4 linked regions of the Homo sapiens genome follow. The protein of the gene in region 1 interacts with the protein of each later gene in a biochemical or structural test. Each region holds a gene or a part of one and is shown on either strand. Other genes may lie near its edges.

The links.
Region 2: the proteins of CRIPTO (region 1) and BMPR1A form a complex in vitro, tested with the Homo sapiens proteins (one study listed by BioGRID).
Region 3: the proteins of CRIPTO (region 1) and BMP6 form a complex in vitro, tested with the Homo sapiens proteins (one study listed by BioGRID).
Region 4: the proteins of CRIPTO (region 1) and ACVR2A form a complex in vitro, tested with the Homo sapiens proteins (one study listed by BioGRID).

Annotation. Positions count from the first base shown.
Region 1 is NC_000003.12:46,573,105-46,580,807, reverse strand, and holds the start of CRIPTO (protein Cripto isoform 1 precursor), read right to left. Parts: upstream 3,021-7,703; 5' UTR 2,839-3,020; coding exon 2,804-2,838; intron 1,714-2,803; coding exon 1,661-1,713; intron 1,577-1,660; coding exon 1,442-1,576; intron 1,070-1,441; coding exon 955-1,069; intron 858-954; coding exon 748-857; intron 1-747. UniProt on the Homo sapiens protein: GPI-anchored cell membrane protein involved in Nodal signaling. Cell-associated CRIPTO acts as a Nodal coreceptor in cis. Shedding of CRIPTO by TMEM8A modulates Nodal signaling by allowing soluble CRIPTO to act as a Nodal coreceptor on other cells.
Region 2 is NC_000010.11:86,752,291-86,759,619, reverse strand, and holds the start of BMPR1A (bone morphogenetic protein receptor type-1A isoform 3 precursor), read right to left. Parts: upstream 3,002-7,329; 5' UTR 2,701-3,001; intron 1-2,700. UniProt on the Homo sapiens protein: On ligand binding, forms a receptor complex consisting of two type II and two type I transmembrane serine/threonine kinases.
Region 3 is NC_000006.12:7,729,074-7,736,098, reverse strand, and holds part of BMP6 (bone morphogenetic protein 6 preproprotein), read right to left. Parts: intron 1-7,025. UniProt on the Homo sapiens protein: Growth factor of the TGF-beta superfamily that plays essential roles in many developmental processes including cartilage and bone formation.
Region 4 is NC_000002.12:147,848,020-147,855,044, reverse strand, and holds part of ACVR2A (activin receptor type-2A isoform 1 precursor), read right to left. Parts: intron 1-7,025. UniProt on the Homo sapiens protein: On ligand binding, forms a receptor complex consisting of two type II and two type I transmembrane serine/threonine kinases.

The sequences.
Region 1 (7,703 bases):
TCCTGTTCTCAGTGAAATGTTTGCTTTCATTTACTTCCTGGACTTGAATATTTTCCATTTCTAACATCTCCAAGGCCCAGAACTATAATAGGTCTCTGAATTTGGGGGGCCCTAGAAACCTGGCTCAGGCTAGGGTGGAGAGAGGACTGTCGCCTCTTTTCCTCTCCAGGTGCTGCCCTTCTTTTCATTGTATTCCTCAAATCAGTAAAAATCAAGAAGGTGAAAGGGTTCTGTGACCAGTCATGGTAAGGGTTCTGTGACCAGTCATGGTAAGGTATGGGGAGGGGGTTACCAGGGACTTTTAGGACTCTGGAAGTTTCTAAAGGACTAGCAAGGGGCCAAGCCTCTGATAGAATTTGTCGTCAGGGTGGGCTCTAAATGAGCTGCCCATCCTGGTTTGGGTCCCCCTACCCAAAGGAAAGGAACACCAGAGAACATCTCTTGGTTTAACAAGAGACCGAGACTTGTTTATTTTCCTCAATAGAAGTTCAGACCATAAAATGTCAAATAGACTTGAAATACATCTCTATCTGAAAGGCAGCAGGACTAGCCAGGTTCCCGAGGAAATAAATATCAAAGAGGCCAAGGCAACTATCTCATCAGGAGTCTGCGATGCTTTTATAAGCAGAACTTTGGCTGCCAGGCTCTAGCAAGACAAGAGGTACAAGGAGAGCCTGCTAACTAAGCACCCCCCAAGGCAACTACGTAACTTCAAAGGGCAAAAGAAAGAGGAGAACCTCCGCTTACCACAGCCGGGTAGAAATGCCTGAGGAAAGCAGCGGAGCTGACCGTGCCAGCATTTACACAGGGAACACTTCTTGGGCAGCCAGGTGTCATGGGGCACAGACCCACAGTTCCTGAGAATGAACAGGTAAGGCGATAGCCTTGGGTCTGAAATTTCCACTTCCCTTTCTCTCTCCTCTCCACGGCTCCCCGCCCCTCTGAATTGCTTACTCTTTGCGCACATCGTGCTCACAGTTCCGTCCGTAGAAGGAGGGAGGGCAGGCACAAAAGGACCCCAGCATGCAGGTTCCCCCATTCAGGCAGCAGGTTCTGTTTAGCTCCTTACCTGAAAGGTAAGAACAGATGACTGAGGGTGTAGGGATGGAAAAGTGCAAGGGCAATTCCTGTAAGCGAAGGTTAATACAACACCAATGTGTTGTATCAGAGTAAGTCTCTGTGCCTTTGAGCAGAGAAGTCATTTTCATGCATAGGCCAGTGGTGGTTCTGGGTTCCCCAGTGTGAAGTGGACTCAGGGGAGGAAAACTGCACTCTAGGGAAGTAAAATACACAATCCTTGTCTCACTTCCAAAACCAAAAGCAGTCCAGCACCTGCACAGTTCCAGAACCAGGTGCCCTTTTAGGTGAAAGAGTGTTGGAAAGATACTCAGGAGACACATGAAGGGCCAGGGCAGAAGCATCGAAGTCAGGCAGTTCTTACTGTGCTGTATCCCCATGGGCGGCACACGCTGGGAAGACCGAGGCCGAATTGCAGGCTCCTCCTGGGGCCAAATGCTGTCATCTCTGAAGGCCAGGTATCCCCGAGATGGACGAGCAAATTCCTGATGGCCCAGCCCTTAACGACAAAATCAATTCATGGAGTCTGTATTTTAGGCCACATAAAAATTGAGAGTGATCAAAAGAACAAAAGGTCTCTCACCGGCAACTAATCCCAGTTCAAAGACTTTAGAAATGGCCATGATCCAAATCACACTAGGAAGAGGAAGTCAGACATGAGTTAGCCAAACAAAGGAAATAAAACCTTACAAGTTAACACCCAGGTCCTCTCATCACAAGGACAAGACCACAGATCACTGAAAAGAAATTGTAGAGCACCATCTTTCTTTTTTTAATGGCTAATTCATGTAACAAAGAAAAATGTTGAAAAAAAGTCACCAATATCCAAGTCTTTTTAATATATATTATTATTTCTTAGGCCCTGTCCTCACATAAGTACCTAATTTTAAGTAGGTATATGTCTTTTATCTTCTATTTCACATGTTTTCCCCTGCATACAATTTTCATATAAGGATTAAAAAATAGCTGCATCCCATGTTACCGATGAATCATTTTACAAACTACTGTATTTATTTATTTATTTTTGAGAGGGAGTTTCGGTTTTTCACCCAGGCTGGAGTGCAATGGTGCGATCTCGGCTCACTGCCTCCCCTCCCCAGTTCAAGCAATTCTCCTGCCTCAGCCTCCAGAGTAGCTGGGATTACAGGTGCCCGCCACCATGCTTGGCTAATTTTTGTATTTTTAATAGAGACGGGGTTTTGCCATGTTGGCCAGGCTGGTCTCCTGACCTCAGGTGATCCACCCGCCTCTGCCTCCCAAAGTGCTAGGATTACAGGCGTGAGCCACCGCACCCGGCCAAACTATTTTAACCAATCACTTAAAAGGTTTTTAGGTAAAAAATGTGGGTTTTTTTTTTTTTTTTTGCTATTATCTTAATAGTTTTGCCAAGTATTGAATCTGCTTATACCTTTAATCTTTTCGGAAGATTTTAAATTTGGTTGTAGTACTGACCTTTATTTGTACAAGAATAAAGAAACACTATTTCATAGGCAGAGTCATTAACATAAAATGAAAATTAACATTAACACGAAAATGTTAAAAGCCAATGGCAAAGTTAGAAGTAACCATGTGAAATTCCAGGTCTTTCAGGAAAAACAGCAGTGCGGTTGGCAGCTCTTTTAAGGCTTGAGCAAGAGAAAAATCAAATGACAGGTGTAGAACATTACTTCCTAAGCTGGCAATCTCTAGCAATCAAAAAAAGTTCACATTCAAGATTAGCTCATACCTGTAAGAGAAGCGGGCCATCTTCCTGCAGTCCATAGCTTTTAACAATTAGGGGGAAAAGAGGCGTTAGCATCGCTTTAATTCAGAGTCATTGCCAAAACAGCCAAAGGAAAACATTCATCTCCTAAAGCGAAAATGGCAATTTAAGAAGAAAATGAGAAATTCGTTTTCCCCAGAAGGTCGTAGCAGAAGCAGGAGCAAGGCGTCCAGGGGAAACTGGAGGGCTTTCGGCCTTGGACGTTTTGACCTTGAGCTGGAGACTCAGCCTTTCCGGGGATTCTCCTTCTTCAACAACAAACCCCAGTCGGGGCGGGGAGACCTTTCAGGTGGGCGGGACGCCCACCAGCATGACAATGGCCCACACGCGGGAAGAGGAGTCTTGTAAAACTGTGGTTAACTAGCCCTAATATCTCTATCATTAGTTGCAGGCTAAAATGATCAGAGGTACTCTTTTGGGAAAAAAAAAGAAAAAAGAAAAATCAGTTTCTCTAATCAAGTTGGTGATTCCAGGTTGGAGGGGTGGTGGAAAGTAATTGCTTTAATTAGGAAAACCTGAAAATGTATGGGTCTCAAGGCATTCGATATTTTATTTTATTTCAGGAAGTTTTACTTCCTGAAATTTGCTTCCACCTTTGTTTTTCCAGAAGGGTGTTTTGAGCCCCGTACTCCCCCTGGGGGATACCCGGGTGGCCAAGAAAGGGGTGCTCTCCGCCTGAGGAGCTAGGTGTGTGTGTGTGGGGAAGACTAGGAAGCTTGAAACTGAGATAGAAGTTCAGGGTCAGGAGGGGTTCCTTGGGGGCTCCAGACTTGAAGTGCAAATTCCAGGCGGACGTGAATTCCTGAAAGGACGCGGGAGCCGGCGCCAGGTGCCCGGGAGAGGGGAGGGGCGGCCAGAGGCGCAGCAGCTGGGACTCTCCAGTGGGAGTGCCGGCCTGTTCCAGGAAAAAGTTCTAGAACCACGGCAGTCCGGCATGGGAGGCCATTTCAGCCCCCAATCACGGGAATTTATCTCAGCCTCCCAGCTCCCACAGGGCGGCCTCTTCCAGCCCCTCGCCGTCCTGGCCCCACGACACCGAGAATTACCCCCGGACTCTGATGTGCCGCTTGCAGGGGTAAACGTGTTTATTGAGTGGTTCCACTAAGTGCCAGACGCCCCAGATGGAGAGGCGCGTCTATGAGCCGGAGTCGCCTCACCTAACATTTCAATCCTCCGGGTTATTTCATGTGTTATTAAATACGCCCAAAGTCGTTAATAGTTTCTAAATCGCATTTAATTCCAATTTCTAAAGGAAAGCCTGACGGTTACTTAATGTTGCCAGGCACACAAATGCGAAACTTTTATTAGATAGTTGTTTCCATCCATCTCTGTTTATTGGATTTAGGCCTCGGCAGAAAGAATTGGTAGCATCTGAGGCCATTTCAGCGTCAGTGCCTACCTGTGTGAATGCCATGGATCCACAGGTGCTGGGAAGAGGTGTTATTTACTTCTACACATGATTTTTTTTTTTTTTTTTTTTTTTTTTTTGCGACAGAGTCTCCCTCTGTTACCCGGGCTGGAGTGCAATGGCACGATCTTGGCTCACTGCAACCTCCACCTCCTGGGTTCAAGTGATTCTCCTGCCTCATTCTCCTGCCTCAACCTCCTGAGTAGCTGGGATTACAGGCGCCCGCCACAACGCCCGGCTAATTTTTGTATTTTCAGTAGAGACAGGGTTTCACCATGTTGGTCAGTCTGGTCTCAAATTCCTGACCTCATGATCCACCCGCCTCGGCCTCCCAAAGTGCTGGGATTACAGGCATGAGCTACCGCGCCCGGCCTTACACATGATCTTGGGAGAAGCAAACGTAAAATAATTTGTATTGGGGGAGTGAGGCCCCATCCAGTCAATGGTGGGATGCAGCAACATTTCCAACTCCACAGCAGTTGACTATTTCATTCCTGCTGCGCTTCGCCTCCTCCCTGTGTGGCCTTTTCAGGTGAAATGCTTCAGGTAGCATGCTGAGATTCACAGGGGACAGGGGAACATGGCCTGAAGCTCTAGGAGGCCGGAGGTGGGGGAGGGCTCCGCAAAGGAGAAGGCTAGCCCTGGAGCTGCAAGGAGGTTTAAAGATGTTACTCAGTGTGGTACATTTGTAAGGTAGCTTGTGCACCACAGTCCTCACCAGTCCAAGGTGCTAAGTAGATAAGTAGCGCCCACAATATTAGTCTCACTTTATGGACAAGACAACTAGTTCTATTGGGGGATTTGGATGTCTTGTCTTTAGAGACTGGGCAGGCCTGTGGCAGAACTGGCAAAAGAACACACCCCTGCGTTGCTATTTCCTTATCTAAAGCTCTTGTGGAATTTTTAGAGCTTAAATAGGACCCCTGGAAATCACTGCATTTTCAGAGGAAGTAACTGAGGTCTCCAGTCTGGCGATGTTGTCATTGACGGGACCAGAACCCCAGGATGCCAGCTTTTCAGCCACACAAAATCCCTTCTCTAAGGACCAGAACCCCCTGAAGAGATTCCCATTCCCCATAGGTACTGACTGCAGAGGAAGCCAAGTGGATCCAGGGTATTCAGAGCCTGGGCCAGGTTTTGGGATGGGGGGTGGGGAGAAGGGGAAGGGAAGGGCTGTGGTGTTTAAGAGAGGTTAGATATTTGCCGTTGGGCTGGAGATGTAAGGGCTATTTAACAGGTATTTGATGTCTACTACTGGGCGGCCTGTAGACTGGAGTTTGGCGCTGGAGAAACAGTTGTGAGAAGTAACCCCACTGTGAGGCTGGAGAGAAAGAACAGTAATTGTTGATTCTAATTGTACTAACTGCAAAAAGTTGTTGCTGCCTCCAGGTGGGGGAATTGAATGGCTACCCTAGGATGGCCACTGGTCACCTCTGCTTGGTCACTGTTGAAACTGGGCTGCTGGCCAGCCTCCAGGCCAATGAGTGCTTTGTGTCAAAAGGTCAGGCCTAGGATTGGGAAGTGCTGTGCAACGGGGGTTCCCCAATCACAGGCAGCCCATCTCATCCCTTACAAAAGGCACTGAGAGCAGAAAATGAAAAACAATGCTCTTGGTGTTGGCCATTTCTTGGTACTGCCCTTGAGACATTGTGTATTAAAAACTGGGGCAGAATTGTGTTTAAAAATCACACAAATAAGCATTTGACTTAAAACCATCCAAACAAGAATGGTGGAATGAAATACATCATAATCAAAGGACAGACTTCCTGTGTCTGCCTAAAATTCAAGGAAGAAAATAAACTTGGAGAATGGGATCAATTTTAGCTATCAAAAGCCAATTCGACCTTGTTTAAATAGTTGAGAACACGTAGAACTAAATTCCAACCAAAGAGTTAACAAAAGAATGCCATGTCTGCACTACAATGACAGTATTTCAAGGTAAAAGCCTTCTTTTATCATAGGGCACTTAGGTCTTACCTCTGTCATTGTTCCCTTGAACATCCAGGCAGGCCAGAAGATAAGAGAGAGCAGAGGGGGCGGGGGAGTTCTGTATATGTATGTACCCTCCAGCTGAGGAATGCTGGGGCCTCTAATTTCATCAAGCTTAGCTTCTGTTAACACCTGAGCTACACTCCTGCGGAAGCATTATCCACCCAATGTGTCCTGGCCACACTTCATTAACAAGTTAATGGCTTTCTGTTTTCACTGGCAAACTTACAAATTGCAACTGGAAACTTACTCTGTATTTGCCAAAGGTCTCTGTGTGGGACATAAAAGGACAGATTCCTGCATTCAAAAATCTGCAATTTCAGTGGGGAAGACATGCTCAAGCAAGTCATTTTAGAGCCATATTGTTACATAAATGGCGTAAGAGGAATGGAGAAGGGCTTAAGAGAGGACTTCATTTTTTTTCCGTGCGCCATGGGGGCCGTATCATATTTCTTCCTATGTAGACATAGTATACATTATTTTATCAATGAATAGACATGACATGTTTCCACGTTTTGTGGTGAACTTCCTTGTACATATATCTTGGTGAACGCTTGAGAGCATATTCCTCTTGTAAATTTCTAGCACTGGAATTGCTTGGTTAAAGGGTGGATGCTTCCAAATTATTTTCGAAGAAGCCTGCACCAATCTCCTCTCCGCCCCTCCTCCCTCCCCCTTGAGTTGGTATTGAGAGCTTATCTCCCAAGTACTTACCAGGTCTGGCTGCAGCAAGCATCTTAAATTTTGTTAATACAGTATGTGAAAAGTAGTATTTCATTGTTGCTTGGTTATTGGGTGTTTGTATTTCATTTTCTATGACCTGGCTGGTCCTTCTTACAGAGCACTTGGACTGGCTTCTTTGAGACTCAGCCCAAATTTCATTTGCTCTGGGAAGTCCTTGCTGAGACCATCCTCCCTACTCCAGCTTCCAGCTGTTCTGAGAGCCCTGTCCTGGCAACCACCGTCCCCAGATTTTATCTTGTCTTCACTGCATATATATATATATATATATATATATATATATTTTTTTTTTTTTTTTTTTTTTAGATGGAGTTTCACTCTTTCTGCCCAGGCTGGAGTGCAATGGCGCGATCTCAGCTCACCGCAACCTCCACCTCCCAGGTTCAAGCGATTCTCCTGCCTCAGTCCCCTGAGTAGCTGGGATTACAGGCATGAGCCACCACACCTGGCTAATTTTGTGTTTTTAGTAGAGACGGGGTTTTACCATGTTGGCCAGGCTGGTTTCAAACTCCCAACCTCAGGCAATCTGCCTGCCTCAGCCTCCCAAAGTGCTGGGATTACAGGCATGAGTCACCTTGCTCGGTCTCACTGTATTGTAAACTGCTTTGTGTGTGTGTGTGTGTGTGTGTGTGTGTGTGTGTGTTTGTCTTTCACCAACTCTTCCCCCTATCCTTTATTCCCTTGGACTAAGAGGTCCAGAAATCTGGTCTTCCAGAAACCTTAGCT
Region 2 (7,329 bases), on another chromosome or scaffold:
GCAGAAGAGTTACAATATCATAAAGCAGAATCAACAGATGTTGGCTACAGACAAGATATGATGAAATGGGAAAAGGTTTGGGTTTGGTATGACATCAACAAAAATAAAGAACACCAAAGAGGCAAGTTTGCTAAGGAAAAGCAGCTCAGAACAATCAGGTACAGATATGTAGAAAGCAACTGAATAAAAAAGAAAAAACAAAACAAACAAACAAAAAAACGTGATTCAGAAGACACATAAACAAAGAATTGAGAATTATTCCAACAGAAAGGTCTGAACAATCATTCTAAGGGACTAGAGACATAGAGAAAAGTGATCTGAAAAGTGAAACTTGGAGAACGCATATTAAAGAGGAAAGAAGAAACAGAAGGCAGAAAAGTGGCGGAGAGGAACAAAGTCAGTATAATGTCACAAAAGGCCCCTCTTCATCTAGTTAATAGTTAACTCTTGCTCATCCTTCACAATCTGCCTGGGTTCCAACAAAGCAATTTTAAGGTATCTTTCCCAGATTCTCCCACCACCACAAGCACCAGATCAGGTCTCCATTTGAAGTTCTTATAATATTCTGCACCTTAATTAAAATCACAATTATATTTAACTAGAGACTTTATTTTTCAATAAGTATTTCCCCACTAGACTTTAAGCTCCATGAGGGAAGGATCTGTTGTATCTTACTGCCTTGGACCCTGTGTTAGAATACAGCGAGTATAGATGAATGAAACCCAAGGAGAGGCATCTGAAAATGTGAAGTCGATGTTAAATCTTACAGAAAACTCAAGGAGAGGACTTAGAAAAAGGTAGTTAAATGTGTTGATTAGGTTATAGTTCCTTGTGAAGGTGAAATCCAGATAACAAGGGGTTAAGAAATGAGTGGCTAGCCACCAACCAGGCAAAGGCAGGAAAAGCAGACTACACTTGGCAATCTCTAGAGATGGATTGTGAATGACTAAATTTTAATTTCAATGTTGCGCTAGTTCGCAATTAACAACCATGTGTTACTTTTATTACGAACAAGCTTTTTAAAATGTTAATAAGATTTGAAAAGGAAAAGCAGCAACAAGACAGCTTGAAGGAGTAGCAGACTTAAGAAAAGGTTTTTGTAAACTGAAAAAATCTTAAGAACATTTGTACTTTAAAGAACCCAAATACGACAGAGAAAATAACTCACGCTCCACTAAGCAGGAAAATTAGAAGGAAAGGAAAAAAACCCCAAGGTGTTAACTAATAAGAAAGACAAAAAAAAAAAAAAAAATTCTCCCTCTTTGACGGAAGGTTAAGAAGCCAGTAACAGAAGGAATTTAATGAAGGAGCTCCTGCTAAGTGCCTCAACCTCTTCTGTAAAGGGTGGGGAGAAGTGAAGAAAGTAGAAAAAGTTTAAAGTGGGCTCCACGGAAAATGGAGGAAAAATTAAACAAGAACTGAGTCTGGTTCTACTAAAAACGCATTCTACATTTCAATCGGCCTTTCATACACTCACCCCATTCCTAGATCAGAGAATTGCCCATATTTTAGCTTCAAATTTAAAAATCTAAATAATTCTGGTTCACATTCTTTATTTCAACAACTGAAAACAATGAGACGCATTAAGTTACACTCTAATTCAAAGTTTAACTCCTCTCACAAGTAAATACAATAAAGTAGTTGTTTTCAACTCCAGCAACAAAATAGCGATAATTTCAAGTAAGAGTAACTGAAAAATGTTCCTAAACGTAAAAGTGTTTGCAAACAGTTTTGGTTTTTTTTCTTCCTAATTCGTTTGCCAGAATACGATGTTCCTGGGTTCAAATCCCAGCTCCCTTAGACAAGTTAGTTAACCTCTTTGCGACTCGGTTTCTTCCCCTAAAACAATGAGGAATACAATAAACCAGAATCGTTGTAAGGATTAAATGACGTAACACAGGTGCCAAGTTCATACTATGTACTCTGAACAGTTTGTTAACCGCTTAAAAGAGAAAACCTGCAGGAGTTTGACCAAATTAAAACATCTGAGAGCATGAAAGAGTACCACGCTCAAACGCCAGACCCTAACACACAGCATATTATTTTTCTTCCCTGACGCAAGCTCATTTTTTTTTCCTTGCCAAATCTTTCCACTAGGAGTCTGGAAAGAGAAAAAAGGGTCCAGGCAATCCAGCAGAAAGTTTTCCAAAACTGAAGTACGGAATCACCAGGCCACGGAGCGGAGGCCGCGCAGGACAACAGGTGAAGCAGCTCCGGGAGCTCGGGGGCCAGGGCCCCTTCCCGCGGGGACTCGGGGGCGGGCCGGCTGCTCCTCTCACTCGACCCCCGCCCGAAACTCATTTTGTTCTCCCCTGTTCCTCCCCACAGCGTCCGGAGCCAAATCACAAATATCAGCCTCGCCGCTCCGGGGCGGGGAGGTGAGCGCCTTTCCCATTTAAGGATTCCAGAAGCGTCCCCGGAGCGACTTTCGCCCACTCCGCATCCCCAAACTCGGCCTGCAACCCGCGAGTGGGAGACAAAAGAGGGGCCGGCGGGGGACGCGGCGCGGGGTGCCGTGGGTCTCTGGCTGGGCGGTCCCGGCCCAGCGCGCGCCGAGGCCTGCGGAGCTGCCGGGGCCGGGCCGGGCAGCCCCTGGCTCCGGCCACCGCGCGCCCAGCTGCCTCTGCAGCCTCGCCCGAGCCCCTCTGGCCTCCCCGCTGCGGCCAGCCCCTCCGGTCCGCACGCGCACTCCCAACTCACCCGGACCCCAGGGAACGCATCCTCCAGCCCTCGGCGCGGAGCGGGTGGGCGCGGCGAGCCGCCGGGGCGAAGTGGGGCCCGAATCGGCCTTCGCCCTTGGCGTGCAGCGGCCCCGACCCGGTCGCCCCTCGATCGGGCCGTGCGATCTTCGCCGCGCGCGGACGGACGCGCCGAGCCTAAGCCTTCCTGCCCGCCCTTGGCCCTCCTCCCTCCTCGCTCCTGCCTCCTCCCTTCTCCTTCGCCAAGCCCGGCAGGCGGATTCCAATCTCTGCAGCGGCCGCCGCCACCGCCGCCGACTCTTGCCAGGAGGGGAGGGGGCGGCGCGGGTGCGGGGGCCTGGGGGAGGGGCGGGCGTCCGCGGGCCTTGCACGGCGCGCGCGCACTGGGAAGGCCCCCGCCCGCGCCGCGCGCACCCGACCACGGGCGCCTGCCCCGCCCCGCCCCGGACACGAAAAGAGCCGAGCGCACGGCGGAAGCGCCCGAAGAGTTCGCGGAGCCCGGCGCCCAGTTGCCGGGGAGGAGGGCCAGCCGCCGGCAAGGGGGCGCCGAGCTGCTGGTGCGGGCGGGAGTCGGGGCTGCTCCTCCGCGCGGGCCCGCCGGCCCCTCCCCACAAGCCAGCCCCACAGCTGCCGCCCGGGTAGCTTCCCGCAGACGCCGTAGGTAGCACGCGATGGAACGCGGCGGAGGGGAGCGTGGACACGGCTGCCGGGCGCTGCGGCCATCGGCGCCCTGGACGCCCGCTCCGGCCTTCGGGGCCGGATATCCCCACTCTCGCGGGCTCTTTCGCGTGGACCCCTCCTCCGGCCGACACTCACACTGCGGTGAACGCCAGTCAGCTGGCGTGAAATAAGGTCGCTGGGAAGGCACCAAGTCACCAAGGTGGGGGATGGCCAGGTCGTGGTAGTTGCGACAAAGAAAAATATAAGTCACATTGCATTTGTTTCTCGCCCACCCACCGCTCCCGGCGTCTCTTCCCGGGCTCCTTGCCAGCGTGCCGAGGCGCAGGCAGGGTGATGGAGGCTCCCCGGCCGGGAGGATCTGCCGGGGAGAGCGGCTTCCCTCATCGATTCGGGAGCGCCAGGCCCGGCGCGCCCGGGCTCCTGTGACCTGCGAGCCCGCGAATTCCAGCGGCATAAGATAAGGAGCGGCGAGGGCCCAACAGGACTGAGGTCAGCCAGCTATAAATACGCCTCCAGCTCCACCGCGGGCTCACGCTGGTGACCTCGTGTACCCTCCGGAGGCTCATTCCGTCCATTTGGAAAATGCAAATAATTGTCACCACCTCTTTTCTTCCATTTCCCCTCATTCATGGTGGAAAATGCTTTTAAAAGTATTCGATGACCCGTATGTGAGGAAAGAGGAGATAGGCCCCTTTTTCACCAAATGTGACTTTAACCTCCTTAGTAATCCAAGAAATGTATCAAGTTTAAGTCACTTAACAAAAGATGTTCTTTTAAAGGTGCATTTTAAAAAATCACTTTTAAAACTGGGTAAACTGGGTAAAAAGAAAGGGGGAAGGAAAACAATGTGCCAGGCATTTGTATTGACACACATTCTTGCCTGAAGAGGTGTTTAGATTCCAGGGTATTCCCTTATATTCTGGTATAAATGTTTGAATTCCCGTGTATTTTGTTTCAATTTTTTGGTTTATCTTTTATTCTGTCTCCCTTTTCTTCTTTTACCCGCCTTTGCCCTTAATGCTGCAGATAGCCTCTGTCATTCTGAATTATTTTTCAATTCTGTTTTCTTCCCTAATCTTTTTTTCTGGGCTCTTCAGCTGTCTCAGGTTTGACAGTCATGGGTTGTAGTATCTTGCTATGCAGGAAGAAGAGGATACGTGAGATTACTTGCATCAACTAAAATTGGTCACTTTTCTTTCTCAAGTTTCCTTCATAATACCCAGTTTTAGTTTTTTTGTTTTTTGGGGTTTTTTTGTTCTTTTTTTTTTGAGACGGAGTCTCGCTCTGTCGCCCAGGCTGAAGTGCAGTGGCGCCATCTCGGCTCACTGCAAGCTCCGCCTCCTGGGTTCACGCCATTCTCCTGCCTCAGCCTCCTGAGCAGCTGGGACTACAGGCGCCCGCCACCACGCCCGGCTAACTTTTTGTATTTTTAGTACAGACGGGGTGTCACCGTGTTAATAGGTGTTCTCGATCTCCTGACCTCGTGATCCTCCCGCCTCGGCCTCCCAAAGTGCTGGGATTACAAGCGTGAGCCACTGCGCCCAGCCCCAGCTTTAGTTCTAAAGGAAAAGATGGGCCTTTTGCTTAAGGAGATTCACATTGATTGGTCAAAGCTCTCATTGACGTATGCTGAGCAATGTGTCGGCAGAGAAAACCATGGCAAGCGTGTTATTATGCTCTTTATAGTCTAGTTGGATTTTTAGACATATGAATTGGTCTATAAAATAGACAACAATCTCAGGTGGGAACCTTAGTACATCAAGTTTCTGAAATGTACAAATGAGTATTCCCTGGCTTGTGTTATCTGCCACTGTAGAAATGAGAGCAAAATTGAAGCATCAAATTTTAAGTCGTGATATGTTTGCTTCTCTGCAAAAGACTCTCCTTTTCAAATCTTCAGGAATTTTTCGCTCTCCTTTGATAAGGCCCAGCTAGTACCCAGGCTTCAATCCTCAGCGCCCTGGCTACCAGCAGCTAGTGGGGCATGCTGTTCTCCCTGGCTACTGGCATGTTTATGCATGCCAGCCCGTTTCTCCGGTCTGTCTGCCCAGGGAGACATCTGGACACGTGTGTTCTGGCCCCCAAACTCAAAAGCAACATCTCGGGATCCACAGTTAACATTCCGTAATGTGTTGGTATTCCTTTAAGTGGGTTACTAGAATAGGCTGGAAATGGTCTTTTCTTCTGTCCAGGTAGGTCACAAGAGAGGTAGTTGTTACATGCCCAAAGCAGCATTCATTAATTACATCGTGCATTTAGTTATTTGTTTGTGGTCTGAGCCCCTCTGCTCCACTAGAATATAAACTCCATGAGCAAAAGACTTTGTCAGTCTCTCTTTTTTTAGAGACAGGTTCTCACTTTGTCACCCAGGCTGGAGTGCAGCGGCATAGTCATAGTTCACTGTAACCTGGAACTCCTGGGCTCACGTGATCCTCCCCCCTCAGCCGCCCAAGTAGCTGGGACTACAGGCCAGCTTGACTTTGTCAATCTATTCTCAACTCTCTCCTCAGAGCCTAGTGCCTGGCAAGTGAATATTTGTTAAATGAGAGAAGAGAAATAAGCATACATATCCTCTAGGCATTTCTAAACCTTGTCACCAAGACCCTTTTAGTGTTAGAGGGTGGCATGGCTATCTTGGAAAGAGTGAAGGTTGGCTGGGAAAGCTGTGGATCACATCCTCTTCAGTGAAATGGGACTTCTGCCTTCAGGGATCCAAGGTGAATAGATTAATCCAAGCTAATCCATTCAAAGTCATTTTCATGTTGTAAAGATCTTATAAGGCAAAAGGCAGCACGAAGTCTCTGGGTCTGATGATAAGTTAGAGGCCAGTAAGGAGGCACGAGTGAAGGAATGCCATTGGTAGGGTGACCCTTTAGGTTGGCTTCAAACCCAATATTAAATGGGTAGGTGTTAGGGAGAATAAACAGCTTCATTTTTCAGCATGGACACTACTACATCTTTTTTTTTTTTTTTTTTTTTTTTGGTTAGTAGTACCCCATCATGGCTTAGAAGGACTAAACTGAAACAGAAACTGTGGTTAAGAATAAGATGGATGTATATAATTCAGTGCACAAAATAGAGGAAGTTTAAAAACCTGAATTCATTTTCATTGTGGTGGTACAGTGTTTTACTTCTTTTGTTTACTTCTAAACAACTTGCTCCTTCTCCCTTAGCTCCATTTTAATTTATCTTTGCCTCAAAGCACTGGCTACTATGATTGAAAGATAGATGATGGAGGATATTGCTGCTCTCACTTGGTCCTACCTAGTCCGTGGCCTCTGTATTCCTCCTTTCCCTACTATCCGTACACCCTTTACCATAGAACCTGATCTTTCCTAGGCCTTGAGGCAGGAAGAATTATCAGAGCTTTGGTCCCAAGCTCAAGACTCAGCCTCCCACTGCCTCGCCCCTTTCTAAGAACTGACAGCCCTTCTCTTGTGTCTGAAACCCTGACCTGTTAGCTTGCCAGGACCTGGAATTTCTCTGCTTGTTGTTTGGACTTAGCTGCATCCCTGCACCCAGACTGCTGGGCAGTTGTAGGTATTGTTGGTGGCATCACTTAATTGCCTCCAGCTCTTTGTTTCTAGGCTCCCTGTATCTGTATTCTATCTATCTGTTGGGCCTCCCTTCCCCCATTACCTCAGGCTGGATGTCCCCATCCCCACTGCGCTCCTGGACTACCACCTGTTGTTTGCTCACTACTCTCTGGCTATCAGGCACTGCCTAGAGGACTATGGTTCCTCCCACCGAGCACCGGGAGCTGGGGCCTCCCTACCCCAACTCCCACGCAGCCCACAGTAGATCTTGGCCTTCCCTGTCCTGCTGCAGCTCACTGCCCTGCTTTTCCCTATCCTCACAGCACCTGGTTTATTGCACTTGGATTATTTTTTAACCAGATGAAAACTATATATAATATATATGCTCTGGACATACACTAAGTACATATTAA
Region 3 (7,025 bases), on another chromosome or scaffold:
TCAACACATAGAAGCACTATAAAATAAATCCCACATTGTCATAGACTATCAAAATTACTTCCTTAGGGACCACTTTAGTAAAACCCCAGAAACAAAATATTCTTCAACTGAGGTATTTTATAATTCTTTCCCCGAACTCTGCGTATTTTGAATTTTTATACTTTCATTGACTTGTTTTTCCTTGTTTAATGTACAGCTTCTCCACAGAGGATTTGTAGGGCAGAGTAGTTTCACAACTCCTCGGCATGATACTATAGCGGTGGATAACATCATTACACATTTGTCCAAATCCACAGAATCTGCAACACTACGAGTGAACCGGGATGTAACTACAGACTTTAGGTGACAATGATGTGTCCATATAAGTTCATCAATTGCAACAAAGATACCAAATTCTGCTGGGTGATAATGGAGGAGTCTGTGCACCTGTGGGGCAGGGGGTACCTGGGAAATCTCTGCAAAATTTTGCTCAGTTTTGCTGTGAACCTCAAACTGATCTTAAAAAAAAACCCTCTCTTTCTAAAAAATGTACAGCTTCTCCGTTGTTAACTTATTCCGATATGGGAGTCTACAAATAAAATCTGAATAAAAATCAAAATTAAGTAAAAACTTTTAGTCCTTAATTTTGTAGTTTACAAAACTCAGTCTTTGGACTATTTAAATGTAATTCATAGATTCAAAAGGAGGGAGGGAAAATAACTGGTCTCAGAGAATAAGCAAGGCTAATATTATAAGAAATCTCCTGGCCTAATCAGCTCTTACCAATGATATGGTTCACTCATGCTCTGCTGAGACACAAATCAGAATTTTTTTTCCAGCCCATGTTCACGTACAGGAAACCAACAGGACTGTAAACACAGCAACAACAATCAACAAACGCAGACGTTCTGGACGGTGAAAGGGCAAGCGGCAGGAGAGTGATAATAAGGCCCGTGGCGGATATCGGAGGTCAGGGTGGAGCGGGCTCCGGGGCTCTGCCTCCGAGGGGCACTGTTTTCTGCGCCCTGTGAATCCACTCCACTCCACTTCCCCCCGTGGCCAGCTGAGCTCTTTGGTGATATGAAAACAATCTGAACATATAATCGGCACTGTGTGGCAAGGACATTTTAGGCCTAGGACAATCCTGACCTGGCCAGCAGGAGGATCAGTCATCAAGGGCGTATGCCTATAAATCTGAAAGTCAGGAAGGCTCTCCCACTTGGAACCAGAACCTCATCCTGCAAAAATGTTTGAAGGAGATTCTTCGACCCAGTCATCTGGGACTGTGCTTGAGATAACGAGACCGTGGGGACCCATCAAGGAATTAACTGATGTAATTTAGATATCATCTCTATTATGGTCCCAATCTCCTTAATAATGGAGATGGGAAGGGCAGGAAGAGAATCAGTGGATATCAGTGGAACAATGCCACTCAGAGCAACGTGGTTTTCAACTCAATTTCGGAGCAGAAAACAATTCTTTGGAGTCAACAGTCCTTTGGACATTTATAGATATACATAGCATTTTCTTTTCTAAAAGTAGAGTTCTTGGAGAAGATGCTATCCACTAAGAGAAAACCCCAACAATTCCAGATTTGGGTTTCCTCGGCTCTTCCAGGGTTGTGCTCTTGCCTGCTTTTGTAATTTCTCCTTCATTATCCACTCCAGCCTGGCCAACAGCCCTATTGCTCTGATGCACTAGGATCTCTGTGTGTTTTCATGGATTGTCCCTCAATCTTAAGAGGTAACAGCAGTAAAGAGAAAATGGTGGTGAAAACATCTAACAAATTTAACTGCGAACAAACAGATTAGATGATATGCGAGAACTTTTCAAGCTCTAAATTCTATGATCTATGGCGAACATACATTCACCAGTTATCCCAAACTCATTTAACCAATAAACCCCAAATGGGTTTTCTGTTGCTGGGGCATACGTGTCCCCAGAAAAACCATGTTAGGGATGGTAGCTGTGTTCCCAGCCTGGCTTCAGACCCTTAACTTTATGCATAGGGTGCTGAAATACTACATATTCACATTGGAAAAAAAGTATAGACAACAAAATCTTCAAAACACTAGTGACTGAACACAAAATCTGATAAATTTCAGTGACCCACAATGTGTTACTGATTTCTAATGCTTGTAGTAAAAGGTGAACAGGGGGAATGCAGGTTCTGAGAATTTCTGGTACTCTCGAAACTTCAGAGGTTAATGGCACTGAAAAATTAGAGTTAACTCTAATTTTCACCGAAGTGGTGATGGCTTTCCTTCCCCTTCATACAACTATCACCACTTTCATATATTCCAGGAGAGACTAGTGCCGTTTTCCGACTCACACGTTTCCAGTGGGTAAAAGCTGGATCAGAGATGGGAGTGAGGGTGTTGAAGAGAAGGTAAGGGTATGATCAGAAAAGAAAGTGTATTTGAATAAAGTTAACTCCGCTGTCGTGATGAAAACAGGGAAATAAGAACAACATAATGCACTGGTTCCTTGCGGGGAACACAAGAGAAGATGCCAGCTATGCCCTATATCTGCCCCCCAGGTGACACCCTGCGGCTGGAGCAGCCCAGCTGCTGGGCACATGGCTGGGTTATGCTGTGGCCTAGGGAGGGGGGGACAGGATGGTTAATGTGTAACAGCTGTTTACGTGAATGGGGCCTTGGTAAATTGTCTATTCCTATCTTAGGGAGTTTCTGCGGTGATTTCTACTCCTTTTACTCATATATTTATGAAAACTAGTGAAAAACAAAATTGTCTAATTAAAATATTGTCTACTTTTCTTCCCACTACTGGAAGCACCAAAGATGGCAAAATGACTAAAATTCTGAACAGAAGAGGAAGAAAAATAGAATAAAGATCGAAGTAGAAAAATTAAAACTGTAACGACGTTGTGCTAAGTTAAACAATAGTCATTCCTGGCCGGACGCAGTGGCGTGAGCCTGTAATCCCAGCACTTTGGGTGGCCAAGGCAGGCAGATCACTTGATGTCAGGAGTTTGAGACTAGCCTGGCCAACATGGTGAAACCCCAGCTCCACTAAAAATACAAAAAAAAAATATTAGCCAGGTGTGGTGGCGGAGACCTGTAATCCCAGCTACTCTGGAGGCTGACACAGGAGAATTGATTGAACCCAGGAGACGGAGAGGTTGCAGTGAGCCGAGATCTCGCCACTGCACTCCAGCCTGGGTGACAGAAAAAGATACTGTCTTAAAAAAAAAAAAAAATCATTCCCTAGAATAGTTCATTTTTGATATAAGATGGGAAGCAGAAAGTGAAGGATTGGTTTGTGAAAAAGTTACAGAAAGCTGCTTCATGATGCAAGACATTGTACCCTCTTCATTTTCCTTGTCTAACTCACCTTCGTAAATAGGAGTGAGGCAAAGACAGCAGAGCTGCTATCTTTTAGTTTGCTACGTTTGATATACTACGTTTGATATACTACATTTGATAGCCAGTATTTAGCCAGTATTCATAGTCAAGTAAAATATCAATTTGAAATCCAACATATAAAGTAGTTACTCTCTGAAGACACAGAGAGGCAACAAATTATATGCTAAAGCAAGCACTGAGCATTGTTTTTGTATTTAAACAGATTCTTATCCCAGGGAAGCCCTCCTCCAAGCTGATCAGAGGTAAGCTCTCAAATAGAGGAACTAACCATGATTCAGCACATTTAAAAAGGATTTATACCCATTCTTAGAAGGACACCCAGAGGAAACACCATCTGAGGTCTGAACAATAGTATCTGCTTGCCCTTTGATCTTAGTTTAAGAACACTTTGTACAACTTTTTTTTGTTGAAATGCCACTGAATTTCAAATTTACTCTTTGTAATCTCTTTAGAAGAACATCTACTGCTTCTTTGAATCACACTCTTGCAACCAAATTCTCCAAACTGTTTTTGCTGTGAGTAGCTTGCAGGCATGGATTTATTTTCTGCTAACAAAAATCTTCTTAAGTACAGGTAGCTTAAATGAAAAACAGTACTACTGATGCTATGTTTAGGAGAAAGAGATAGCGCATTATATCTAGTTACAAATACAAGTAGGGAGTATTCCATTTTTCTTCTTATTTATGTTTCCCAAGAGTAATTTTGTTCAGAAAATTGCCAGTATTTTTAGCACAAGTTTCTTGCTGCTTGTACTAATATATACTGATTCCCTTTTCTGAACACAATTTGAGTTTTTTAAATTGCCATTTAATCCTAGCATTTGGAGATAAATACCTCGTGAATTCAAATAAACAAGTGAAATCTGAAATGCAGATATTTAATTAAATGTTTTTACTACTCTCAAATGTAATGCATATTACAAATTAATATACATATGGGTGACTAATAAAAAAGGTGTATTAATAAAGCACGATGATTTACCTCAAATACTGTGAACCTCCCTGTCCTAAATGTCTTCACTGTAAACATTTTACTCAATAAAAATCAGGTATACCCTTTCTAAATAATCAAATCTTCCAAATCAGTGAAATATGAATTTGAAGCATGGGCTATGTCTATATGTTCACTAATTCAGCCTTTTCAAAGCATCTTCCATGTGGTCAGCATTATGTTAGGCACTTGGGCTACTGTGGTGGGTTAGCGTGGTTTCCGCCTTTGGAGGCTGACATCCTACAGGGGAGACAAACAAATGAGTAAGCAAATTTAACAAGAAAAAAGAAAAACTTGTGATAAGTACAAGGAAGGAAATAAGCAGAGTGCTGTCATGGTACAGAAGTGGGTGGGATGGAGGCATGACCAGTTTATATAGAGTGGCAGAGAAGGTCTCTCTTAGGTGAATTTTAAGCTAAGACCTGAAGGATACCTCTCCAAGGTCACCAAATTGGCAGGGATGCTGACTAGGCTGCCAAGACATTTTTAGCATTAGAAAACAAATAGAAAATGGCATCTGTGGCCCTGAGTGAATGCAAGTTCACGAGCTCGCTCACCCAGGCACTCTGCACACCAGCAGCCCAGGCAGCAGACGGTTAGCATTTAGAAGGTGACACATCCCAGCCTATTCACCCAGAAAGAGTTTGAAACAGTCAACATAAACAACAATGAGCTGGTTGGATGACCAGCACTTGCGCTATGAGAGAGAAATTTATCCTGTTGATTCACACTTCCTGATAGTCCGGCTGGCTTACAAGGCTCGGGGTGTTTCAAATGTATTTCATGAGTAAATTATTCCCCCAGTCCCAGGGAAGTCGGATGTTTACAACTATGTAATACTTTCCCTTGTACTTCCAGTGTGTAATTTACTTAACCTAGTAGGTATAAGCGTACTTTAAAACGCAGCGCTGTCATGTTTATCTTTCTGTAGATTCTTTAATAGATGAGTCAGGTAATGTGGCAGTTAACATGGCATTGACAGCAATTAGGAAATCTGTAATTCTCTAGTATCCCTATATAGAGAATCCAACATTGGTACGCAATAACTTTGTTCAAATGAACTGTCCTTCCTATGTTCAGAGTCATGGCAATCAGATTTTACCCCATTCTAGCCTCTGATGATGAAATACCCCTTTCCTATTGCTACATGGATTAAGATGAAATAGAATTGCTTCATTGGCAGGTGGCATGGCTTGCTGCTTGGATTCTACTTACCCGCAAAAGGTTTTCTCTTCACACTATCAGTATAGAGTCCAGAAGTGGACCTACAGTAGCTATAACTTGTACAAGGAGCCCAGTGATAGGAATATGAGGGGCTTGGGATAGAATTCCCATCCTAGAATTCTCTTTCAGTTCTGTGTCAGCCTGTCTTGGGGCCTGGAATTGCACTACTGGGTGAGTTCTCTTAAAAATTTTTAGGGGATTTTTTTAGATCTTTCAAAATCCTTTACGAAAAATGTCAATATCCCTAGGGAGATACTATGTTAAACCATCACCCTAGCAAGGATTAGCTGACAGCCAGCTTTAAGCAGTGTGACTCAGAGGCAGTGTGTCCCTGTAGCCCACGAAAAGTCAGAGAAGCAAGGAATAAGGGGAATTTGGAGGGTCACTAAATACAGTAAATATGACTATACTTTACAAATTCGCCTTAGGCCCAGCTCTTGAAATTTCAAATACCATCTAAGGCAGTGGTTTCCAAACACTGACATCACCTGAGATCTTGACAAAACAATGACACTGCTGGGCATGGTGGCACACTTCTATCTTCCCAGCAACTCAGGAGGCTGAGGCAGGGGGATTGCTTGAGGCCAGGAGTTTTGAGTCCAGCCTGGGCAACGTTGGGAGATCCTCTTTATTTTTGAACAAAAAAATACTGCTACCTGGTTTCCACCTCCACACATTCTGATTTGATATGGAGTGCCACCTGGGCATCTGGGTTTTTTTAAGGCGTTCCCCCCTACCTCCCACGTAACACCCACGTGATTCTAATGTGTAGCAATGTTTGAAAGCTTTGCTCTTCATCTCTTACTGGGACAATGTATCCATTTCCTTCAGACATTGGGATCTCCTGTGCCAGTGTTTCCTGACCACGGTAGCATATTAGAAAAACCTAAGGTACTTAAAAAAAATGATGCCTGTGCCCCACCCTCAAAAGATTCTGACCTAACTGATCTGGGCCCACGAAGCGGCCCTAATAACCCTAGAACTCTAAGTCCCCCGGGTGATACTACAGGGCAGCTAATGCTGAGAACCTCGGTTCAAGCCCAGGAATTGTTTTCCCAGGGACTGTAACACGATTCTCTGTGAAGTAGCCAGGAGCGCCAGTCTTCCTCCCCTTTGTCCAGGTTAGGACTACCCCCAAGAGGCAATAAAACATTTCCCCAGAGCTGCCAGGAAACCTGGAGGCGGGGTGGGGGCGGGGGGTGAGGGTGGAAGGAGAGGAGAGGAAGAGAGCAAGGGGAGGAATTTACTAAGTCAGAAGCAGCAGAAAAGTTAGAATAAGGAACAGCGCTGGTCCTCTGCCACCCTGGCCCCCACCCACTACAAATTTTATTGACTGGCATGAGAATTTCCTTAGAATGCTTCCTGGAGGTGGCTCAACCTTGGATTTGGTTCCAATAAATTGTGAAAATTCTTGTCCAATCAGAACCCCGGGCAGTGCAAGCAGCC
Region 4 (7,025 bases), on another chromosome or scaffold:
GCCAGGCATGGTGGCGCATGCCTGTAGTCCCAGTTACTCAGGAGGCTGAGGCAGGAGAATCACTTGAACTGGAAGGCTGGGGTTGTGGTAAGCCAAGATTGCACCACTGCACTCCAGCCTGGCCAACAGAGCGAGACTCAGTCTCAAAAAAAAAAGAAATAGGCAGATAAAGTAAACAGATGTGATATGTGATAAGGCAAATAAAGAGTAATCCTCTCGGCACCCTGTTAGTTTCTGTCCGAGCACGTATGACAATCTGTAATTATGTTGTTCATTTGACTACTTACTTTATGACTATAAGCTTCAGAAAGGCATAATCATATCTGTCTTCATGTTTAATAATGTATCCCAAGCACTTACCATAGTGTCTAGCATGTAGTTCAATATTGATTTGTTAAGTGAATGAATACCTATTTCACCCTCTTTAATTTAGGGTGAGTAAAGTGAAATCTTAATGGCTGTCAAAGGTCAAAGAAGAGTCAGTAGGAAAGTAGGAATTTGAATGACAGACTCTTAAGTTTTAGTCCAAAATATTATACCACATTCAAAATATTGATCTCAAAGTACAGTCATTGAATAGCTTTGTGTTTTCAAAGCTTAAAGTAGCTGGTACCTAAAAAACAGACTTGAGAATCTTTCAAAACTTTACTTCTACTAAAAAGTTTTAAAACACTTAAAAAGTTTAAGAGAAGTTGTCCAAGAAAAAAAGATATTTTAAATTCCCACTAATAAATAGAGACGATTTAGTCCATTGTTTCTTTTTAATGCATGCTAAAACAGTGAGACCTTAAAGAACTCTTTGTAAGGAACCACGATATCTGAATATTCTAGATATTTATTGGCAGCTATCTGGCTCTCTATAATGATATGTTCTTTGGCTGTATCATTTAGTCAGAGTATTATTTCACATTAACTGACTGATAAGTAACCTGCAAATGTAAATATCCCCCAAGAACCAAATCTATATTTTTTAATGTTTTACATACCATATCCTTTTAAATGGGACTTAAAGATAGATTAAAAACTAATATGTAAGATCTACTCTGGACCAGCTACCATGTTATGTGGAGTTATCAATTCATTTAATACATCTTGGTTTACAAATTTTAAAAGTTAATCTCAGAGTTTTAGAAATGTGCCAAGATCTCATAACTTGTCCATGCCCCTTCCTCTTGAAATAATGCCTTGGAGCAAGCTTGATATATCACATATAGTTATGAAGATGGGAAGAACAATAAACTTTTCCTTTAAAATAAAAATTTTAAAGTTAATAATCATAACTACGAAAACTCCTCCCTCTAAGCTTTATAAATAGGCTTACTTTTATTACAATATGTAAAGACTTGATTCATTTTTAAAATCTTTTGAAAGGCAACCCCTCCCCACATGTGTAGCCAGTCCTTCTAATGTAGTAACTCTCTTCTTGCTTTACATTTATTTTCTTTAGCAATATTAGAGAATAAAGTAATTCCCAGTGTGACTACAGCCAACCAAAGAAAAAACTAGTCCAAAAGAATGGTCACTGAAAAGTTTAGGTTTCAAGCGTGAATACCATATACCAAATTCAGAAAAGCATCTAAATCTACTTCCTTAGAACAGTGTATTTTACTGTAGGGTCTCATACAGATTTCAAAGAATATAATCTGGATGACCAGTATGAGTAATTACTGAAATTTGACCATCATTTAAACATAAACAACATATTGAGCCACTAATGTTTAGAATTCTTTAACTAGACTTCACAATGAAGACATATCCATCATACAGTGTCTGCCTCTTTAAGAGAATATTACGTTATCATGTTTTATTATGTACTCTTATTTTTCCAAATACATGTCTTTATTTCTATTCATGCTTATCATCTAAAACTATATCTATCTGTAAACTTTTTTAGTTATGAAGGCACTTTCAATTTTCCTCTGGCTCATTACTTCCTTACCAATTTTATTTAGTAGTGCTACCATTCTACCTTAGTCTTCGAGTTGCTTTTCAGTCCTATATCCACATATGGGGTATTTGGGACATACATCAGGATATGTATCATCCACTCTTACCTCCTCAGTTTTAATTACTTTTCATTTGAATTTAAGGGTTAACCCCCTGAGATTGTCCTACTTCTTCAAGCAATTGTGAACTCTCTTCATCACACAAATCTCTTCCTCAGATTTAGTCAAAATTTCTCCATCCCACCTTGCCTTCATCCATGGTCAAGTTTACTCTCAAATGGCTATTGTGTTCCTGATGCTATTTTGTGTCTTTTCCTTCATATTAACATCCTTCCTAATCTCCGTCTAAGACTTTTTTTCCAGTACTAAGTCCAGCAAGTCTTTCCTAAATTAAAAAATCCCAACTCCCCAAAATTACAATCTAATGTTGTTTCAGCGCCTTCGTGTGTGCTTAATTTATTCGACTAGTCCAAAAGAGAGAAGACCTTAATCAGGGAAGAGCCATGTTCTCCCTTGAGACCAGTTTTCCCTATATTCTATACCTAGGCACACAGTCTCTATTGTAGATTAATTAATGACCATATTTTTCAGTGCATATATTTTTCATTGCACACATTTACATATGAAGCTTCCTTTTCCACTAAGAGAGTACTGAATACAGGAAATAAGGATTGTTGAACTAGGTCACTGGTTTTAGGGATTTACAATCCATTAGTTGGTCAATGAATCAATTAATGGGTCACGATCAATGTTTTTTAAATGAAATGTAATATAAAAATACATAAGTGTCCTGCACATAGTTAAGAGTACACAGTTCATGAAACTTTCATTTCTGATGCACACAGACATATATACATACACCCCTACTACTACATGGGAACTAAGTCATAATGCAATGTGTAATTCCTATTGTGTATTACAGTCAAAAAAGTATGAAAGCCATGGAACATGAGGATACCTAAGATCCCCTCTAAATCTATATAATTCAAATTCTAATTTTAATTATTTAAAAAAATTTAAATTTGAACATAACTTAAAGATATCAAAACAATGAGCAAAATCATCTTTTCTTAATAAAATGTCACCACTGAACTCTAACCTTAAAATTATAGAACCATAAAGCTTTCAGAGTAGGAAAAAAAATCAGGGATCATCTAATCCAAGTTCACCACTTCAATACATTAAGAGGACAACCGTGGCTCAGAGAAGTGAAATAATTTCATTTCATTCATTTAATAAACATTTGCTGAGCACCTATTGTGTACCAGGTTCCAGGAATGGGTGTGTGGATAAAGGAAAGATGTCTTCAAAGAGTAGAAACAGGAAAGTAAACATTTGCACAGTCTAAAGTGGAAACAGGCAAGTAAACATTTGCAATTATTACTGAAATCAAGGTCATTTACAAGGTGTTAGATGAACAGAAAGCAACTAACTCAATCTGGGTTGAGTGACAGAGAAAATGTTTCTAAAGAGGTGATACTTCTCAGTCTTAAAACCAAAAAGGGGTTAGCCAGGTAGAAGAGGAAGAGTAATATGTACAAAGGCACCATACTGATATACAATAAAGGATTACACATTTAAGAAACTGCAAGTCAAGTCTGTATGGATGGAATATAGTACTCAGGCTGAGGAGAAGCTGCAGCAGAATAACTAGCATTTAATATTCAAACCACTCTCTGAGGTAGGCACTATTAATATCCCCCCATTGTGTAGATGAGAAAACTGAGGCACACAAAGGTGAAGTAACTTGACCAAGGTTAAGTTATGAAACCAAGATTTAAACCAATTAGGTCTATATCCAGAGTCTATACTCTTAACCAATACCAAGAGGTTAGAAAAAATAGGCAGGAACCAAACGATGAAGGACCTTTTATGACATTCTAAGACTTTAGATTCTATGCTAAAGGTGACTCACAGTCAGTGAAAGGTTTTAAGCAAGGGTAACATATTCAGATTTATTTTTTAATAAGATCACTCCAGCAGCTATGCAGATGGACTAGAAAGAAAAGGAAGTAGTGATAGGGAACTGGTGAATCTTAGCTAGAAAAGTGCTACAATAATCAAGTAACAGAAAATGATACATAAGCTAGATACTGGCAGCACTGACACCACAGCTCAAGTCTACCAACCTCTACGACCACATTCTTGATCACTATCCATATGAAGTTTCCAATTCTTTCCCTTAGGTCCACCACTCTAACAGTTCAAAAAATCCAATCTCAGAGACAAAAACATATTTCCTTTAAGTCCCTTTATTAAAACAAAGCCTGACCTCTAGATGCACTGGGTATACAAAAGTGACTAACAAGAAATCTAGGTGGAGAATGACAGAAAGTCACTTGCTATCTACAGTAGTTTTCTTACCTTCTTGATTTCTCCTCCTCCTCCTCCTTCCTCTATACACTATTCCTGGAATTTTCATGTTCAATAGTCAATTTGAAATCAATGTTCTGTCTAGACATGACTATTTTACAATCTAACAGAATTAAATCTACCACAGAGGAAGTCTAATGTGGTCCTATCAGCAGCAATAAATATACTCTTGGTTCTAGTCAAATTTTGGCTTAAACAGAGATGATAAATGAATAATAAGATGAGCGAAACTTTTTCTGAAGCAGCAAAGAGTTAAGGAAAACCTGAATATTAAAAAAGAGAATAAGAGCAATCTAAAGTTCAAGCCATTTGATTCTAAGAGAGTAACACTATTCCCAAGAGGGTGTGCGAGGTAGTCCAGAAACCAGTAAATGAAAAAACAGTGGAAAAGACTATCTGGTCAATTCTCAAGCATTCTAAATTCAATCTGTTTTCATTAAAACTACGGGTAAGCCCTCTGGAGTCACCCATGATGCTAAGCCACAACTGGGTTCCACAAGCAAGCAGTATAAGGAAGTACAGAAGGGTCAGGGGAAGAAAAGGGAGTAGACAAAGAAGGGAGGAAAATGGAAAGGGAACAATAATGAAAGGGAATGGAAAAAACAATGAGTTACAGAGCAGTGAGCAAAAAGCTAAGGCATACCAGTGACCCCTAGTATCAAATGTTGCCAACCTTACCTATAATCTGAGACAACATGGCAACTGGCAACTTAACAGACCATGAAAACACAAATTTAAATCATTGGACTCATGAAATATCAAAGATGAGAAAATCATAGTAGCACTTTAAAAAGTCAAAATGCAACAAAATAAAGTCTTGGAATCTAAAGAAACAATTTAGAGATTACTAAAATCTCATTTGGTTTAGTTGTGCTTCTCTTAAGAACAGTGAGTCTGGTGGACCCAAAAGGCGAAAATGTCAGTATCAGAGAGAAGGGTATGGAGAGGTGTGTTACAAAGACACTGTGAGGCTCATTTGGACACCATTTGTGGGAATGACTTCAGAATTTTCCTCTCTATGGTATAATGCTCCTTAATTTGCTAAGAGTTTCACTGTAATTCTTATCTTGGTTGGCTAGGTTAACTCCCTTAAAACCAGAGTTCAAAACAAGGTAAGCATTTTATTAATTATGGTCAAGATTTAGCCTTAAAAAGGGAAACGATCTGCAATAGATCATAAAATATTACTTACTGTATCATGAATTAGTCTAACGGTAACCAAAACCCAGCTAGTGATTCTCAAGATAATTATGTAATTAAGAGATTAGGTTAAAAGTTTCTTGAAATTAAAGTTAGCTAGACAAAAGAAATATCTTTTTTAAAAAAACAGAATTTCTACCTTGAAACTATTCAGGGAACATGTAATAGTGAACATATTTCAGGCAACATGTTACACACACACACGAATACCGCCATAAGGCAGCCCAATGATGTCAGTAAAAATAAAGGCAAATATCCTTAAAGATCATATCATGGCAAAGAAAATCCTGGATCTAAAGCAAATATAATTAAACTTGATACCTTAACCAATCATTCATTATGTCCAGGAACATGCAGTCTTCATGAGCACTCTATCAAAATCGGTGATAGGAGAGTTTATCCATAAGTCATTGGAATATTTTATTATAGTATAAAATATTATACTATACTGGTGAATTCTCAAGCATTTCATCAAGGATGAAAGAATGTGCGTATCTATAGTCTGTTTCTCTAATTTAATCATATTCTAATTTAAAAGATAATGAAAAGATAAAAATCTTTCAATACAACGTTACCTGGAGATCATCAATACCATGTACTTGTAAAATTTAGATTACTAACTTTAGGGGGAAGAGAGCAGAGCCCTTTTACTAATAAACTACTGCTTTTAAAATTTAAGAGTTTAGAACTGAGTTTTTCCTTTTTTTTTAATTTGTATTTTAGGTTTGGGGGTACATGTGAAGGTCTGTTACATGGGTAAACTCGTATAATGGGGTTTGCTGTGCAGATTACTTCATTACCCAGGTATTAAGTCCAGTACCCAATAGTTATCTTTTCTGCTCATCTACCTCCTCCCACCCTCCATCCTTGAGTAGACCCCAGTGTCTGCTGTTCTGTTCTTTGTTTTCATGTTTTCTCATCATTTTGCTCCTACTTATAGGAACATGTGGTATTTGGTTTTCTTAGAACAGGGTTTTTTGACCTCTACACTACTGACATATTGAGCCAGCTAACTCTTTGTTGTGGAAGGCTGTACCATGTATTTTAGGACGATTAGAAGCATCCCTGCCCTCTACCCAACTAGATGCCAGTAGCACACCCCGTCCCCTGTTGTGACAACCAAAAATGTCTCCAAATGTCCCATGGATGGGGATCTGGGGAAGTAGGGAGGGGGACTCACCCCAGCTTGAGAACTGTTGGCTTAGATCATAAACAGGAAAAAAAAATAGAAAATGAATGGAGGGAGAATTTTGTTTCATTTTGTTTCTAGTCTCCATGTTTCAATGTATTATATTTGAATTTGACCACAGACACCATTTATAAGAGATTCTGCCTTTTAGAAAACAAAGTATTTATCATCCATCACTTGTTAATCAAAGTTCAAAAGAATCCCAAAAGATTCTCTGTAATGCTAACTCCCCCTCCAACCACACATACATTCACACATACACAGTACTGCCTAGCTGAACTGAAGAAAACATAATTACCATATTTCCATTTCCTCTT